Linked DNA regions of Homo sapiens: region 1 is linked to region 2. The links come from fine-mapping of genetic effects on gene expression. A gene starts in region 2. The other region holds a variant in brackets. All regions are shown on one strand. Distances are between the middles of the regions. Region 1 has its middle 30 kb from the start of SLC9A2. Region 2 holds the start of SLC9A2 (solute carrier family 9 member A2).

Region 1 (5,383 bases), 29 kb before region 2:
TAGATTTGCCACATGATTTTAAATTGCTTTTTTTTCGAGGCTTTCAATTGAAGCAATTGGACAAGTAGAAAGATTTAAAAAGTTTTTTTCTGGACATTTGGACATATGAAATATTTTCTCGGGATTAAGGGTAATCACACTTAAAATAATACTTACTTGTTACACTAACATTTTATCTTAATGATTCTCAACCTTCATTGTGGGTAGAAGAATCACTCACCTGGGGAGAGAGTAGAATGATGGTTACCAGAGTCTGGGAAGGATAGTGAGGGAGAGGGGGAAGTAGCGATGGTTAATGGATACAAAAACAATGGAAAGAATACGATCGAGTATTTGATAGCACAACAGGGTGACTTTAATCAGTAATAATTAAATTGTACATTTAAAAAAGCTAAAAAGGGCCGGGCGCAGTGGCTCATGCCTGTAATTCCAATACTTTGGGAGGCCGAGGCAGGCGGTTCACTTGAGTCCAGGAGTTCGAGACCAGCCTGGCCAACGTGGCGAAATCCCATCTCTACTAGAAATGCAAAAATTAGCTGGGTGTAGTGGCACATGCCTGTAATCCTAGCTATTCAGGAGGCTGAAGCAGCAGTATCACTTGAACCTGGGAGGTGGAGGCTACAGTGAGCCGAGATCATGCCACTGCACTCCAACCCGGGTGACGGAATGAGATTCTGTTTCAAAATAAATACATAAATAAATACATAAATAAATAAGTATAGCTGGATTGTTTGTAACACAAAGGATAAGTGCTGGAGGTGATAGCTACTCCATTAACCTTGATATGATTATGACACATTGCACATCTGTATCAAAATATCTCATGTAACCCACAAATATATACACTATGTAACCACAAAAAATAAAAATTAAAAAAAATTAAAAAGGATCACCTGGGGAATTTAAAAGCTCAGATGTCTATACACCCTTCCGCCTTTCTCCTTCAAGTGATCTAGTTGATCTGTGCTGGAGCCCAGGAATCTACATTTTTGAGAACTACATCAAGTGTTTGATCTTGGGTAAACCAGAGTGTTTCATTTAGACTGCAGCACTCTGTAACCAATTCTAGTGTAAAGGCTCTTTTTCTGGGCCGGACCTGCGCTGCGTGACCCAGCCTCTGTTTCTCCCCTTGCCTGCCCTGCTTCCTCCCCGAGGAGCTAAGCCCTGTTGTGCTTGTTTCCTTGGTGTCTAATTTAATCCCTGGTTATGATTTATGTCCTTTGGGCAGGTGCTAATCACATGGGAAACAAATTCTCCCTTGCTGAGGCTTCAATGCTCCCAGAATAAGCTTTATACCCTTAAGAAAATGATCCATCTGAAACTGTCATGTGGATTTGATTATCACACTTCACACAAAAAAAGGCACATCTAAAAAAGCAATGGTATGATTAAAGTGTTATAGAAGGTTTCATAGGAGGTAGAATAAATAGGTTAGAATCTGTATATCTGGAAAGTTGAAAATTCCCTAGAGGTAAAACCACGGAGACCGACCAGTAGAACCAGGTGGTGCCGTGGAGATCATGAAGTGCTGGCACCTCACTCCAGAGACATTGCAAACACGTAGGTAAGAGCAAAACCAGCCTGGCCTTCTCTTCTTAAAAAACTCAAAAGACCTATTCCAGATTGGAAGAGATAGTTTTGGGAAGATAAAAGCAATACATTGCCCAACAAATTATGGATTAAATATAGGCAACTTATTACTAGCAATAAATCACCTAAAAGATTTTAAGAATATTCTTGAGACTTTAATGTATGTTGCACACATGATGAAATAATTAAGAAAAAATAAATGTATTCAGACTCATCTCTAACATTTGAAAGAGACCAGGATTATGTCTTGCAAAGGGTTGTGTTTTTTTTTTGGTTTTTAATTGCTGATTTGCTAAAACCAGACTTTTCCTCTTGAAGTGGCTGGTAACACAAAGCCTCAGCACATCTGTAAAGCAGCATGCATCATAGAAGAAGCACAGTGTGGGGCTCTCTGGAAATTTCCAGTACAGTTGAGAGATAAAATACATCCATGAACAGAAAATAACACAACACAGCACAGCCAATAGAATGAGCTGTAGTTTGAGAGAGGAGCCCAACACCAGGAGAGGTCAATATTCTTGTTAGCTTCCAGTGATAAAAATTAGCCTCCAGAGCCACATTTTGAACAGTTTTGTGCCTCAGTTCACTATAAAATACATATGATGATGACAGGAGTCACACCTACTTCATAAGGCTAAGATTCGATGTTAAGATTTGATTAATGTATGTAAAATGCATGACATCCAGTATAACAGCATAATGAATAATGAGATCTTTGTTATCATTGTGCTTTTCCTTTTGAATTTTTTTTTACCACTCCACACACCTTTCTTTTAACTTTTGAACTCTTATTCA[C/T]GCCTCAAAACCTTACTCAAATCACACCTCTCTCAGGAAGCTGGCCTTGATTGCCCAATTTGGTTTTGAAGTACAAGACTATCAGCTTTGATCACATAGTTTTTGGCCACCTCCTCTACAGTCAATGCTCTTTGAGGACAGAGAGCAAGAATCGTCTGTGTCCCCAGGCCCTAACAGTGTGCTTAACACGTAGTAGGTACCAAGCACATATTTCTTCATTAAATGAAATGTCTTATCTTGAATAGGGAAGGTGGATTTTATACTAAATCTCAAAGTCCAGGCAGAATCTTAAAGGACAAAAATTGGAGGAGAACAAAGTCTGATGAGTGAAAAACTATGGTTTCCGCTTCTTTGGTAAAGTTGTGATTTCCTCCTCCTGCTAGTCCTTATTCTTCTGTTGGAAAATTTATTTCAGGAGTGCATTTTTGGTTTGGGTGTTGATGTCATGATTGTTACTCCCTCACCAAACTAATTTAAAGGGTCCCAACACAGAATTTCTACTTCATAGGTTACTATTGTCATGAAATCCAATAATGAATGTTTGGGAGCATCACCACCCCATATGAATTCTCTGCATAGCACTTTCGTCAATTCAACACTTAACTCCTTTTCTGTCTTATGCTTTGGATTTTGAGCCCCTTGAGTACAGAGACAGGATCTTATTCGCCACTAAATTGCACACCCAGAAGTGTGTAGTCAAAGTAGCTGCTGAGTAGATCCTGACTGATGGATTGAACGAATGGATGAATTGCTGGATAAGAGTGTATAATTTTATCAACAAAATAATTTATTTTCACTTCCCCAGCATGCCTTCTGCAAACACATATTTCTCTCTTTGATTAGTCTGCTTTCTATAGCTGGTTAACCAACTGTACACAAATATCTGCCTGCTGATATTGTCCTCCCAAATTTTGTTTCAGGTGGTTCCTCCTTCACTTCAAAAGCTGACTAAATACCCAATATTGTCTCTCCACCTTACGTCACACAATAATTAGATAAACCTCTATTATAGCAAAGATTGCACGTTGCTTGACTTTTTTTTTTTTTATCTTTCCTGAGGTCTTAAGGAACTCATGATTTTATTCCTGAGCTTTGAATGGACTCATTCTTGATCACATGTATGGCATAAACCTTTTCTATGTTGCTTCACTGATAATTTTAAATTATTAAACTAATATTTTTGGCATATTCAACATACCTGAATAATATCTTATATGTAGATATAATTGCATAATGTATTGTGAGACATTTAGATTCAATTATGTTCCAAATAATTGAATTCAAAAGTATTTGGAAAATAATGTATATTCAAATAAATCTATGTTCTTGTTCTATTTTCTGATTTTAATTTTTAAAAAGGATATTACACTCTGGAATTTTTCTTGACTTACAAATTGTCCTATAATTTTTTAAAATATGTTTTCCTCTTATAGCCTATAATATTAATATTAACAACACTGAGTATTATATTAATAGTGCTAGGTTGCTATTACTTAGAGTTTGAATGTTTTAAAGCTCTTATAACTGTTGTCAAATTATTTTTCAAACATTATCTGCCAGTTTATGTGCTTCTCAGCAATGGGTAGATTTACTAGTTTCATTTTTATATTTCCCAATATTAGGCACCATGATATACTTTTTAAAATAATTTAGTAGAGGAAATAACATTTATTTTTGCTTTCATTTGCAACCTTTCACTATAAATGAACAATTTTCATCTTGCTTATACATTTTTATTTTCTTTTAGGTAAATTATCTTTTTTATATACTTTGTCCATAATGTAGTCAACTAATTTAGCAATTTTGGGTCATTAAAAATAATCACCAGATTTCAATAAACTAAGTTTTTATAAGAATATTTTAAATTATACCAATTCTCATCATGCAGCTACTGTTTACCTAGCTTAAAGCTCATGTCAATTAAAAGAGTAGCCATTTCATTTAAGAAGGAAGTTGTAAAACTCAAATCATGGACCTATACTCGTTGTGATGAGAACCAGTGAATATGGTGGATATTAATGTCCCTGTATCAATCAGCACCTGCTATCAATTACAATCCAGGGCCGGGGAGGCCGGAGAGGTAGTTTCTGTTCTAGACTAAACCTAAGAGAAAGGGAGGCCACTTATCTCAGGTGAACACAAGGCTAATCAAACTCTGCTCTTTTCCCTATTTCACTTTTGTTTGCTTATTTAACCAGGCAAAAGTAGTTAACCACTCAGAGAAAACAGCTTCAACTCTGTTGACATAAAACTCATTTCACATGACCCACAGATAATTGTTGGCAGCCTTCAAAAGGGTACAAGCTCCTGCAACTACACCATTTCCTCAAATCCAACTGCAGTAGCAGCCCTGCTTTCAGTCCATGCAATTTTTTTAAAGAGCAAAATGACCTTTTATTTGTCAGGCACTTTCCAATCATTCATAAAATATCAGTTTTGGAGCCTAAGTTGATGACCACAGCTGAAGACATGCTAGAGCAATGGCGCTGTATCTTAGCTGCATATTGGACTCTTGTGGGAGCTTTAGAAGATATTGATGGCTACCTGTACCCCCACTTCCTTCAGGACTCTGATGTAATCGGCCTGGCATAAAGCCTAGGCATGGGGATTTGTAAAAGACCTCCTAAGCTAGGTTGAGAAACACTCACTGCTCTAGGGGAAGATAATGGATAGGGTTTGACTACTACCTGCTGCAGGTAGTTGCAATGATGAAAGATGAATGATAACACATATTAGTTTATTTCTCAAAGGAAAAGATTCATGAGGATGTTCTTGTCTATTTGTTTGTTTGAAGAAATGCCTGCAAAATATCTAGAAATATAGAATAGATTCAAATGATGCAAGTTAATCAGATTTAGGGGAGAAAAATAGTTCATGCTTGATACTTTACATAAATGCTGCTAAATTCTATTTGTGCATATCAGCATGCCAAATCTAAATAGGATATTTAGATACTTTTGCCAACAATCTGATCCGTATTTATTGTTTTAGCATGTTT
Region 2 (5,307 bases):
GGTTCATAAATTCCTAGTAAATATTTCTATGCTATGTGAAAGTCAATCTGAAATCAGGTAACTATAATTTCTAAAAATATTTAGAAATCTTGTAATGTGATTAAATTCACACATCATTTGGGTAGAAGGGGGAAAAAAGACATGAGAGATGCCAAAATGTGAATGAGGGATCACTGGAGAAAACATTTCATGTAAAACTAGGAGAATTCATGTCCATCCTGCAACTGGCCTAACTGTGAGAAAGCCCTGCAGCTCAGATCCGTAGTGTGTGAGAGTTGTTGATTTCACCGTCAATTCATACATTTATTCGTCCAACACATATTTAGCGGGTACTCACTGTCTCCGGGCAATATGCTAGGAGCTAAAGATAAAAGAATGAGTTAAACAGACCAATACCTTCACAGAGATGTTCAGTGGGAGAAAAGCAAAATGATTAAGTGCTGAAAAGTTATGGGAGATCAAAGGGCATAAAAGAAGACCCCCCAATTAGTCCAGAAATTCAGCTACCAGGTGAGACGTCCAAAGGTCGCTAAGAAACCACTAAAGGATTTTAAATGTGTACACACGTTTCGCTTCTTGCTTCAGTCATCCCATGGGTGGTGTTATCACTTTCACGGCTGAGCTCCTAGTCAGAGGGCACTTTGAAGAAATAGCCAGGCCAAGTCGCTCTCAGCATAGGGGCATAATTTAACTCTTTTTAAATTTGCTTTAAGGGAAAGATGAAAAGAATGTCTTTTTAGACTAATTTCTTCGCCTCCCATTTACAAGAATAAATAAAACGACTTTTTTTTCAAATGTAAAAAAAAGTGGATAGCCTTTAACTGCAGTAGCATAGATGTATAAAGTTGAAGTGATACCACATAAGGTTTACAGGCAGTGAGGGCCCGGAAACAGATTTGTCATTCATTTTCTTGTTCATGATACACAATTATTCTTAAAAGTGTTGTGTGACAAACTCCTAGAAAGTATTGTCTAAATGTGCCCTCTCCCTATTACTATGTCACTAAGTTTGTAGAACTGCCTGATTCACTTACCAAAACTTTATCCTGCTGTAACTTTTTTGAACAATCCCTGTAATATTCTCCACTGCTTATTTTAAAGTAGCTGAGAATATAGCGTGCTGTTTATGGGCAACTAGTCATGGGGTAGAGGGTGAGATGATACCAGTGTTAGCCTGGGCAGGCCTGGGTGTGAATTCCATCCAGACACTTACTTAATATGTAAACTTGATTAAGTCTATTTGTTTATTTTTACACATTTCTACACTATATTTCTTCACTTATAAAATGGGTAAAAAATATCTGCCTCTTTGGATTTTTACGATTGACAAAAAAATGCAAGTAAAGTGCCTTGTATTGAGCTTCCCATGTAGAGACAGATACTCAAAAAATTTAAAAATCTCTTATTTGCTGCCTTTTCACAGGGGTATGTTAGGCACATACCTTTAATAAACGTTTCCAGTGAAAGGAGAAGGGGAGGCTGAGTTTTGGATGCCCAATGATTCTTCTCAAGATAATATCTTTAGTTTCAATTCTGTAGCGCTTTTGAAAAACTGATGCTTTGTGAAATATCAAATGAAGTAGTGCTCTGTAACATCTCCCAGAATTCTTCTCTCTTTTTAGCCTGGACTTGTCCCTCCATTACTTTGAAGACCCAAAGAGGACTGTTCCTTATTTTCTTCTATGCAGGTGGAGGATTTTTTTTTCTTGTACCCTCTGCTGACATCTCACTGATTTTCTATGTTAGAACTTTGAAAGAAAAAAAAAAAAAAAACGGCTTTGAAGGTCGAACTGCCTGGTGTTTGTTTAATAGTAGAAGCCACGTGTTTTGACACATCAAAGATTAAGAAAAGAGAAGGATTTTATTTCATAAATATCAAAGGGAAAACTTTCAGTTAATTGAATGGCAACTAGTCCCCTTTGTGCTCATTTCGGTTTCTGGCGATAAAGATGCTCAAACAGTGAGATCGCAACCAGTGAAGGAGGCGCTCTGAAGGACAGGAAAGGTTGGCTCTGCATGAGAAAGCCCTTTTAGATCCAGAAGAAGAATCACGCTTCCTTTCTTTTCCTGACCACAGCCTGTCCTGTAATTAGCGGAGCAAGTCAATCTGAGCGAGGCAAATCACTGGTTTTCCATGAAATAATTATATTTCTTATGCTCTTGGACATGTACACCTCTAAGCCTAAAAGCGGAGAAAGATGTTTTGGTTTTTTTTACGTGAGCTGGGGGAGGGAGAAGAAAAGTGGCAGCGACAGTGTAGCAAATGGGTGAAAGCAGCACAATGTGGCAAGAGGAGAGAACAGGATTCCGATTCCGTGGGGGCGTGGGAACACTGAGTTCCGCGCAGGGAGTTTCCCTGTTCAGAGCACCTTGTGCGCGAGTTGATAACTCTCGGAAAGGAAACAAAATTTGGCTTTCCTAAACTTTCTGTACGTCCAGAGAATCCCATGCCTTGTCTTGGCCTCCGCAGCGCCAGGCTGGGGTGACAGCACTCCTCCTCCACCGGCCCGGGCTTCTCCTCCGGACCGCGAGCCTGTGGCGCCTCCCCGCGCGCCCAGCGCACCGGGGTGTCCCCTTGGAGGAGCCTGCGGGGGCGGGGGAGGAGGGAAGGGCGCGACTCGTGGGTCGCGCTGGTTCCTTCACTGGATGGACGTCCGACGCTGCCTCCGGGGCGGAGACAGCTCCGGCCACCATGCGCCCGTTGCGGCGATTCCACCCACAGTTCGCTGGCTCTGGGGGTGGCGGGTCTTGGCGCGCGGTGCCTGCGCGAAGGGAGGGCAGCCATCGCCCCCGCGGTCACTGGGGCCCCGCGTTCCCCGCGGGCTCGGGCAGGTGCGCGGTGTGCCGGCCAGGTCCCCTTGTCCTCCTGCCCTGCGGCTTGGGCGCCGCGCCCGCCCCGCCCCCGCCCGCGGGCCGCCCTGGGCAGGGCCTGCCGCTGCGGCTGGAGAGCAGCGCACCGGCATGGGCAGGCGGCCGGCGGCGGAGGGCGGCTGAGGGCTGCTGAGGGTACGCGCAGCGGCCTCTCGTCGCCCTGCACGTGCCTCGCCAGGCAGTGCGCCTGCTCGCAGCGAGGACCTAGCCCTCTGGTTGCAGAGACCCGGTGCCGCAGCAGCGGCGGGTGGCTGTCGCTGCCCTGCCCTGCACGGGGCAGGGCGGAGCGGGCTGAGCAGCCCGGGCGCGATGCGTTGAGCGCTCGGAGGGCCAACCGCCGGTCCCCTTGGCGGCAACCGGCGGCACCCATGGAACCACTGGGCAACTGGAGGAGCCTGCGGGCGCCACTGCCTCCGATGCTGTTGCTGCTGCTCCTGCAGGTGGCGGGGCCCGTGGGCGCCCTGGCGGAGACCTTGCTGAACGCGCCGAGGGCCATGGGCACCAGTTCCAGCCCGCCTAGCCCTGCGAGCGTGGTGGCTCCCGGAACGACGCTGTTCGAGGAGAGCCGGCTGCCTGTGTTTACGCTGGATTACCCCCACGTGCAGATCCCCTTCGAGATCACCCTTTGGATCCTGCTGGCCTCCCTGGCCAAGATTGGTGAGCGAACTGGACTTGTGGGGAATGGGAGGGGGCGATCTCGGGGGGACACCTGGAGGGTGACCGGGTCAGCCAGCTGACCTCTAGATAGTGACCGCCTCATCTTGAATCAGGGCAGGGACGACAGATGGAGCAGCTTCTTCTGGTTGAAAAGGACCCTTGGAAGAGCAGTTTCGCGTTTTGGTTCTTAAGGGAACATTGGCCTTGAAATGGCCCCAAGTGTAAGTTCTACAAACTCAGCGATTGCTGCTTACTTCTGCCGCACGGAACGCCAAGTTTGTCAGCTCTCTGCTTAAGTTGAGTGAGATCTGTTTATTGAAGTGTACCAGTCTCACCTGCAGGGAGAGAGGTGCCGACGAACCCCGGAGCTATGCATAATGTGGTTAAAACCCTGGATGCTACAGGAGAGAGGCGCCTTGGCAGTGACACAGACCCTGCTGTGCGCCTGACTAATGAGGTGCATGGAAGGGGACCAGGGACACCTGAGTGCTTGCAGCTGCAATAGGAACGCCCTTTCTCCTCCCTCTATTGGGTTGAGGCTGTCACTCTCCAGGAAGCTTTTGCTTCGGGGTGGCTGAGGCCAGTGAGGTGAGATGCATATTTAAAAATAATTAACTCTGGGCCCAGGACAATGGCCCAGCCTGTAATCCCAGCACACTGGGAGGCCCAGACGTGAGGATCCCTTGAGGCCAGGAGTTCAAGATCATCATGGGCAACATAGCAAGACCAAACAGTACAAAAATAAAAAATTGGCCGGGCGAGGTGATTCACGCCTGTAATCCCAGCACTTTGGGAGGCTGAGGCAAGGTGGATCACGAGGATCACTGATCAACATGGTGAAACCTCGTCTCTACTAAAAATACAAAAAAATTAGCCGGGCGTGGTGGTGGGCGCCTGTAATCCCAGCTACTCGGGAGGCTGAGGGAGGGAATTGCTTGAACCCAGGAGGCGGAGGTTGCATTGAACCGAGATTGCCACTGCACTCCAGCCTGGGCAACAAAGCAAGACTCTGTCTCAAAAATTAATCAATCAATTAATTAATTAATTAGGTAGCCTGGTGTTGTGGTGCACATATGTATTCCCAGTTACTTGGAGGCTGAGGCGGGAGCCTGAGGGAGGAGGATCGCTTAAACTCAGGAGGTTGCGGTTGCAGTGAGCCATGAATGGCACCACTGCACTCCAGCCTGGGCCACAGAGAGATACCTTGTCTCAGGGAAAAAAAAAAAAAAAAAAAAATTACCCACTTTCATACTACCTTTAACTCTCATTTTGAAAGCAGAAACCTCAGAATATATTTTCTCATCTTCATTACCCACGCCCCAGAAACTTTCATGTTATGAGCATGGTGCTTTATATTATTTTTACTTTATATTTTAAAGACTTTAGAAAAATCCTGAAATATTAACTATTGTTATAATGATTCGATTAAGTTGTTAGGTCCAAAGAATGTATGCATTACATGTGTTTTACGTCTTTACCCTGTGAGATGAGGCAGATTTCCATAAAGAATGAAAAGACGCATTGTCTGCCATCCTCAGGGAGCTTACTGATGAGTGGAGAGACGTGTACACGCTGTGTGATTATTGCCCAGGACAGTGCTGAGTAGGGTGACAAACTCAGAAAAGATAGTATGCCATTGCAGGGAAGCAGAGAACACTTCCTCATGCAGAGCAAACATTTAAACTGGATTTTCCAGGATGACCAGGATCTGGTCAGTTAGAGAGAAAAGGGAGCAACATTCCAGAGAGGACTGAACAAAGACATAAATTGGGAGAGGAG

The links. PIP is the estimated chance that this variant, and not a neighbour inherited with it, causes the effect.
Region 1: its variant is the best candidate, but not a certain one, in a credible set for the expression of SLC9A2 in lung (TOPMed, PIP 0.71).

Annotation. Positions count from the first base shown.
Region 1 is chr2:102,587,224-102,592,606 of GRCh38, forward strand. No RefSeq gene overlaps it. Among named protein-coding and RNA genes, the nearest start is that of SLC9A2, 30 kb to the right of the region's middle. The variant C/T (reference allele first, on the strand shown) is at 2,386.
Region 2 is chr2:102,616,610-102,621,916 of GRCh38, forward strand. It overlaps SLC9A2 (solute carrier family 9 member A2), which reads left to right and starts at 2,944. Exons shown (of 12, transcript NM_003048.6): 1 at 2,944-3,528. The coding sequence starts at 3,240. RefSeq lists a silencer at 2,552-2,661.